2 linked regions of the Homo sapiens genome follow. The protein of the gene in region 2 purifies or fractionates together with the protein of the main gene of each other region. This does not show direct contact. Each region holds a gene or a part of one and is shown on either strand. Other genes may lie near its edges.

Evidence for each region. Proteins that work in one complex are often made in the same cells at the same time.
Region 1: the proteins of MARCHF3 (region 2) and VAMP7 purify together in Homo sapiens (affinity purification with mass spectrometry, with the first as the bait; one large-scale study listed by BioGRID). This does not show direct contact.

What each region holds. Positions count from the first base shown.
Region 1 is NC_000023.11:155,891,277-155,894,926, reverse strand, and holds part of VAMP7 (vesicle-associated membrane protein 7), read right to left. Parts: intron 1-3,650. UniProt on the Homo sapiens protein: Involved in the targeting and/or fusion of transport vesicles to their target membrane during transport of proteins from the early endosome to the lysosome. Required for heterotypic fusion of late endosomes with lysosomes and homotypic lysosomal fusion.
Region 2 is NC_000005.10:126,876,911-126,880,560, forward strand, and holds part of MARCHF3 (E3 ubiquitin-protein ligase MARCHF3), read right to left. Parts: intron 1,485-3,650; coding exon 1,275-1,484; intron 1-1,274. UniProt on the Homo sapiens protein: E3 ubiquitin-protein ligase which may be involved in endosomal trafficking. E3 ubiquitin ligases accept ubiquitin from an E2 ubiquitin-conjugating enzyme in the form of a thioester and then directly transfer the ubiquitin to targeted substrates.

The sequences.
Region 1 (3,650 bases), on a different chromosome or scaffold from region 2:
AGCGAAAGGCCAGGCGTGGTGGCTGGCTCATGCCTGTAATCCTAGCACTTTGGGAGGCTGAGGCGGGCAGATCGCTTGAGCTCAGGAGTTCAAGACCAGCCTGGGCAACATGGCAAAACCCCGTCTGTACACAAAATACAAAAATTAGCCAGGTGTGGTGGCACACGCCTATAGTCCCAGCTACTTGGGAGGCTGAGGCAGGAGGATCGCTGGAACCCAGGAGGTTGAGGCTGTAGTAAGCTGAGATTGCGCCACTGCACTCCAGCCTGGGTAACAAAGTGAGACCTTGTTTCAAAAAACAACAACAACAAAAAAAAGTGAGCAAAGAGTTTTTCCAGAGAGGAAGCAGCAAGCATAAGGGCCTAGAGGTAAAACAGCACCTAATAGATTTAGGAAAGTAAAATTGGCTCACATGACTAGAGTACAGAATGTGAAGAAAAAGTGAATTATCTGGACAGACAAGACTGGAGAAGTAAGCAAAAACCAGGTTATACAAGACTTTATAAACCACACTGTGCATTATCCTAAGAATAATGAATAAACATCCAAAAGTTTTAGCCTAGGGAGGGTGTGATCAGATTTGCACTTTAAAAAGGACACATTAAAAAAAAAAAAAAAAAAAAAACAAAGGACACATTGGCTAGAGTGCGGAAAACTGACTCAAAGGAGGACCAGACAGGAGACTACTGCAGTATACCGGGTAAGAAATGAGGAGGGAAATAAACTAAAGTAGAATGGGTAATAAAGAAAAAGGGACAGAGAAGAGATAGGAGGCAGCATTTATAGAACTTGGTGACTGGCGTGAGACAGGTTAACTAAATTTTGCCTCCCACATTTGTACCTTGGGCAAGTGGATAGATAGGGGTACCTGTTGAATTATATTAATGTTCACAGAGGACTGACATGAATTACAAGGAGATACAGGAACTCAGGCAAAATCTTTTCCTCCAATACTCTAAAACTATTTGCACCATTTCCACCAATGACTTCCACATTGCCATATCCAGTGGCTCTCTCTGAAACATATGATAGTGTTGACCACTTCCTTTTGGAAAGTGTTTTATCTTCACTAGATTTCTTGACATCAGGCTTGCCTGGTGCTATAGACTGAACTGTGTCCTTTCAAAATTCATATGTTACAGTGTGACTATATTTGGAGACAAGGCCTTTGGGAGGCACTTAAGATTAGATGAGGTCATGAGGGTGGGGTCCTCGTGATGGGATTAGTGGCTTTAAAAAAGAGGAAGAAAAAGATCACTCTCTTTCCACCACCTGAGAACACAGCAAGAAGGTGGCCATCTGCCAGCCAGGAAGAAGGCCCTCATCAAGAACTGAATTAGCGGGCACCTCACGCAGTCTCCAGAACTGTGAGAAACAAGTATCTGTTGTTCAAGCCACTCAGTCTATGGTATTTTGTTATAGCAGCCCAAGCAGGCTAATATACCTGGTTTATATCATAGTCCCTTTCCCTCTACACTAACGTTTTCTAGCTTCCTTAGCCTCCTGCTTTTTTCACACTTACTTACTCCCTGGAGGGCAGCATGCACTCTCATGTTTTGTTGTAGTTTGTTTTCAGCTACCACAATTATGCCAATGATTCCCAAATCTCCATCTGACCTATCTCCTGAGCTCCAGGACTACCTACACTACTGTCTACTAGACATATCCAACTGGACATACCATAGACAGCTTAAACATGACATGCCCAGAATGAAAGTCATCACTTTCCCCATAAAATTTGTTTCTCCTAAACCAGACTTGTAAGTCACTTGGTGCACAGGCCACAAAAGGTAACAAGGTATGATCCCTGCCATCAAGAAGCCTACAGTCAGGGTACAGAAATAAACAATCATTTCAATTATAATACAGTCTGAGGCCAGGCACGGTGGCTCATGCCTGTAATCCCAGCACTTTGGGAGGCCGAGGCGGGCGGATTGCCTGAGGTCAGGAGTTCGAGACCTGCCTGGCCAACATGGTGAAACCCCATCTCTACTAAAAATACAAAAATTAGCCAGGCGTGGTGGCACACGCCTGTCATCCCAGTTACTCGGGAGGCTGAGGCAGGATAATCACTTGAACCCAGGAAGTGGAGGTTGCGGTGAGCTGAGATTGCGCCATTGCACTCCAGCCTGGGCAACAAAAGCGAAACTTCGTCTCAATAATAATAATAATAATAATAATAATACAGTGTGAAAAGTGTTACAATATGAACAAACTAGATGCTATGTAGACACATAAAAAGAGTGTCTGATTGCGGTGCCTGACTCAGTGTTAATGTTCAGGGGTTTCTGGAAAAGGAAACATCTAAGCTCAGGCACACAAAGTGAGATTTTTAAAAAATTAAGTAGATAAATATATTCCAGTAAAAGGTAACAGCTATTGCAAAGGCTAGGAAGAGAGAAAGAACCTAGCATTGAATTGTAAATGGCTAAGTATGAAGTATGGCTGGAAAGCAAAACTGAGGACTAAAGTAGTAAAAGATGAGCCCACAGAAGGAAAAAGTGGCAGATCTTGAAGAATATTCCAAGTCCCGTTAAGGAATTTTACCTTGAGGGCAGACAGTATCTGTTGAAGGAAGGAATATGATCAGAACTGCCCTTTTAGAAGCATTAAAGTACAAATTAAGAAAGTATTTCGCTTGGGACCTGTAAAGTGAGCAAAAGTTTACAAGGAGGCTTAGGGGGAGAACAGCATTCCTAGAAGATAACAAAAGCATGAAAAAAAGGTACCAAAGCTCGAAATAACACAGCTAGATCAGAGACACAGGCAGAGAGGCATGGCAGACAGATAACATCTCCTTCTACTATAACTGCATTTTAATTGGATTACATATTCTATACTCTCTTAAAGCTACATATGGCTGTGACTAAATTCTGGCTCATAATACATGAGTGGAAGATATATGCCCTATTTCCCAGTCTTGCCTCTAAAAGGACGACTACATGTGCTTTCCCTGGACATTTTCCCAGGAACTGCCTAGAAACACAAAGACTGTAAGTCTAATACATTTTTAGAGAAAGTATAAAGCCAAAATCATAAGAAGCTAAGATTATTTAACCCCTAACCTCTAGGCCCACAAACCTACGCTGGCAGCAAGAGGACTACAAAATGGGTACAATTCCCAAAGATGATATACTCTCTAACTACCATTTTGGATGTGGCCAGAAAGGAAAAACTTCCTGGAGAACAAAGCCAGGAGTCAGGGAAAAAGGGTGAGGGAGTTCCTCCAAGAAAGCAGAACCACTAACCACTTCCTGGTCAGAATAGGGAGTCTTTGAAATTGTGTGAGGCAATTATTTGATCATTACTGGAAAGCAATGACTTCTACATGTTTCTCATTCTTCCCTTTTCCAAATGGGAGTTTGTAACTCTCACTGTGATGATCCTTTTCTTATTTCACCATTGTCTACTGGGTTAGGCTGGGAAAGCAGGGAAAACATATGACTTATCTTTTACTTTATGGTCAGTGGACCACAGGAGCCACACCAGGGCCTGATGGATAGGACTGTGTACCACCTAGACATGCTGGACTTGGAGCCAAACACAGTGACTAGATAGGTCTTTGGAGCTACCTCTCTCAGAGAAGAGGCGTATTCTATGTTTGGGAAGAAAGGTTCACTGAAATATCTGGGTGGCCAGGAGAGTAGACT
Region 2 (3,650 bases):
AAGTGCTGGGATTACAGGCATGAGCCACCGCGCCCAGCTGGAAGCGTAGACTTCTAAAGGAAGCAATAATAGTTTTGCTTGGGGCTTCACTAGCCTGGGAACAGAATGTCTAAATTAACCATAAGACTCAGATAAGTTCTTAGCATTAGAACACTCCCTCTTTACTGAAACTGAAATGTATCTCCTTACTGTTTGAACACTCTCACTGGAGGGGAGGCACAGAGCTGGAAGAGCCATATGATGAAGAAGAGGGAAATGAACAGGGTTGTGGGAGTGGCAGCTGGAGGAACAGGGTCTGGGAGACACAGAAAGGGAGGAAGTATGTGCTAGAAGCAGCTTCCACATGCTGACACTGTGCTATGGGATATGGGAATGGTACACTTTAGACAGGAAATACATATTGAATAACAGTGGAACGTGCTCAGATTAGAAACGAGCAGGCACAGGAGAGTAATGCCAGGAAGCAGGGGGCCCAGCTTCTGAAAATATTCTAGAAGACAGTGATGTCCTTCCCTGCAGCTCCCAGAGGAAAGCATAAGGAGAGAGATCAAATGTTGCATTTTGTGGGTGCTGTCAACTGGTACTCAAGCGATCAACTTACTGCATGAAGTTAAAAGTTAAAAGAATGAAAAAAGTGATATGTAAAAATTCTTCCTCACACACAGCGAGAACACTTATTGGGAAATGGCCTTTCTTTGGTGGCAGCTTCTCAGCTAGATAAATTAGTGCTTTTATGGGCAGCAGAGTCAATATCCCAACACACAGAATAATCACCAGGCAAAGTGCGGCTCCACGTCCAACAAAGACTTTAGGCTGTGTCAGGACGTAAGAAGGAAATAACCAGCAGGGAGGATTCACGATCTGTGCAGGCAGTGACAGCAACAGCAGCCAAATGCATCATTCATAATATACTACAATCCCGGCAAAAATGAGAAACATAAACAAGGGAAAGAAAATGCCAAGACTCATAACAGATGGAGTCCTAGACTACTAGAGGAGAGAAACGTCCATGGTGTGTCTGTGTCTTTGACTGATGGACACCCAGAAGCCAAACTTTTTCTTTATGTGATCCGCCTTAGCAGCACAGACACACACACAGACAAACACACACACACACACATAGTCATAAACCAAATCTCATGCTCCCGCCAGCAATCGAAGGTCTGTTTTCTACCGGGCAGGTGAGATGTGTTACAGACAAGAGGAAAGGCTTGTGCCAGCTGTGAGGCTGCCAGCTCCAAATGGCCTGAACCCCAGCCACGGCCCATACTTACTAGTGTCCAAAAGAGGTAAATAGTGAAGAGTGCGACAGTGAGTGCAATCAGTCCGACGGCTTCCAGCCGACTACTAAAGTGCAGGTGGTCCACGGCGCCCCGCAGGCACAGCCAGCCCGAGATGGTGGCCAGGGGAGTTATAAACAAGAAGCACACCATGTCGCCAAACAGAGTCCGCTTCTCATGCTGGGGGCCAGGGTTTCTCAGCCACTGCCAGGTAAAGGGAGACAGAGAAGAGCAAGGGAGAGGGTTAAATGCCAGTGTGGAGTGGAGACACGCTGTTCTGAAGTTATCTTTGCCTTCAGAACCTTGGGAAAAGGCATTTCTGACTTGTTATGAGATAACAAGGAAGTGTTCAGGGCTCATTCCCATGCTCCACCCCCTGAATAATAATGATATGATACAAATAACAATAATAATTTATAGTGTCCTTGCTGTAGATGACCTACTTTTTGTGAAAATAGTCGTTACTATTCAGAATCACAATGATCCCATGTGGAAGGAAGAGAGAATGTTACGCTTGGAAGGTGACAGCTGAGGTAGGAGAAGTTCAGTCATGTGTCCAAAGCCTTCCAGTGTCTTCACCCTGGGAATATGTGCTGGAAACGGTTGAGTTGCTCAAGCCCCGCACATTCCCAAGACAGGCCTGTTTTTAGGACTGGCTCTTGACCAGCTTCTGAGAGATGAGCTCTGAGTCCTAGTAACATTTTACCTGATAAGAGTATTTTGCATGCCAGAGGCCTTGGGCCCACAATACTAGTATGATGAGACACTTTATGCCAACAATGTGATTTATGGTGAACACCTATTTTTGCCCTGGGAGCCTGGAGTTTGAGTAGCTGAGGTCAGTCATGCAGATATTGCATGTCTGTGTGACTGATCCCAGTCAAATCCTGAATACTAAAGCTCAGGTGAGCTTCCCAGATTGGCAAATACTTCGCCCATGTTGTCACAAATCATTGCTGGAAGAATTAAGCATATTTGTTTGACTCCACTAGAAAAGGACACATGGAAGCCTGTGTCTTGTTTCTCCTGGACTTCACCCCATGCACCTTCACCCTTTTCTGCTTTTAATCTGTATCCCTTTGCTGTAATAAACCATAACCATAAGTATAACAGTTTTTTCTGAGTCCCGTGAGTACTTTTAGTGAATAATTGAGCCTGAGGATGGTCTTGGGGATACCAAACACGGAATAATACTCACCTGACCCCATGAACTCATTAATGCCCACTCTTGGCTTTTGGATCCTGAACCTCCTCACTTAGGACCACCTCTGACATCTTGATTATGCTGCCATCTTGACTGAACTAATCCCCAAAAGGATGGGGAAAACCTCATGCTTGTTGAAAGACTAAATAGAATTTCTACAGTTAGGAAAATAGGATGGCTGTCCTCCCATTTGGGTACCTGCTTAATGCTTGCTATAATGCTTTCCAAAATCCATTCGACAATAGATTTAATTCAGTGCTTACATACTGGTGTCAATTCACATGAGTAATGAGGCCTGATAGCTCTTCTTCAGATTAGCATTGAAACACTCTACAGATAATTTGACATTCCCATCTCACTGTTCCATGTAGTAAACAGAGGCCAAGGAGTCCAGAGAAGGAGTGGGGTCAAACACAGACGATGGGGTTGGGGTGAGGAGAGACACTGGTACTCTTTGCCTTCCATCTTGTTCCTACCAACAAACAGGGACCTAGCATTGACTGTCTGCTGATGCGTGCCCAGCAGTGCCACACAGCTGGCTTGCCAAACAGGAGCACTGGCCACTTGCAGCCCAAGTGGCCAGGGCAGCGAATCCTACAAAACCACTGGGAGGAAGAGAAGGGCCATGATGGGTGAGACAAGAGTGGGTGGGGCTGACAGGAGAGGGAGGGGAAGGCCATGCTCAAGCATGGAACGACAAAATAGAAAAGCGGCAAAGAGGGAAAGAAGTTGAGGAAAGAGCAGTGTAAGGCCTGGCAAAACCCCAATGAGTGAGTAAAAGAAGCAGGAGGTAAAAGGCACCAAAGAAAGTTTTCTGGGAGGTGCCCTTCCTCAAATGTTTGCATGAATCCCCAACACTCCACCTTTCAGGGACAAGCCACCTTAAACACGGGCTGAAATGCTGAATACAGTCAGTTTCACCTCGAAAGTGGACACAAATAAATATTAAAACATAGATAATGGGGAGCTGACTTGTCTGCGAATTTAAATACTGCATTATATTTAATATAAATACCAAAATAAGTGCAAATGATATTAATCCTGCCATGTGTTGTCATGCCACCTCAGACATCTCAGCAGCTTCAAAGAAATTCAAAGAGCTCTTATTAATTAACATGTTCTTGCCTGAGTACTGGGAATATCACTATCAAGTGGAGAGTAGAAAT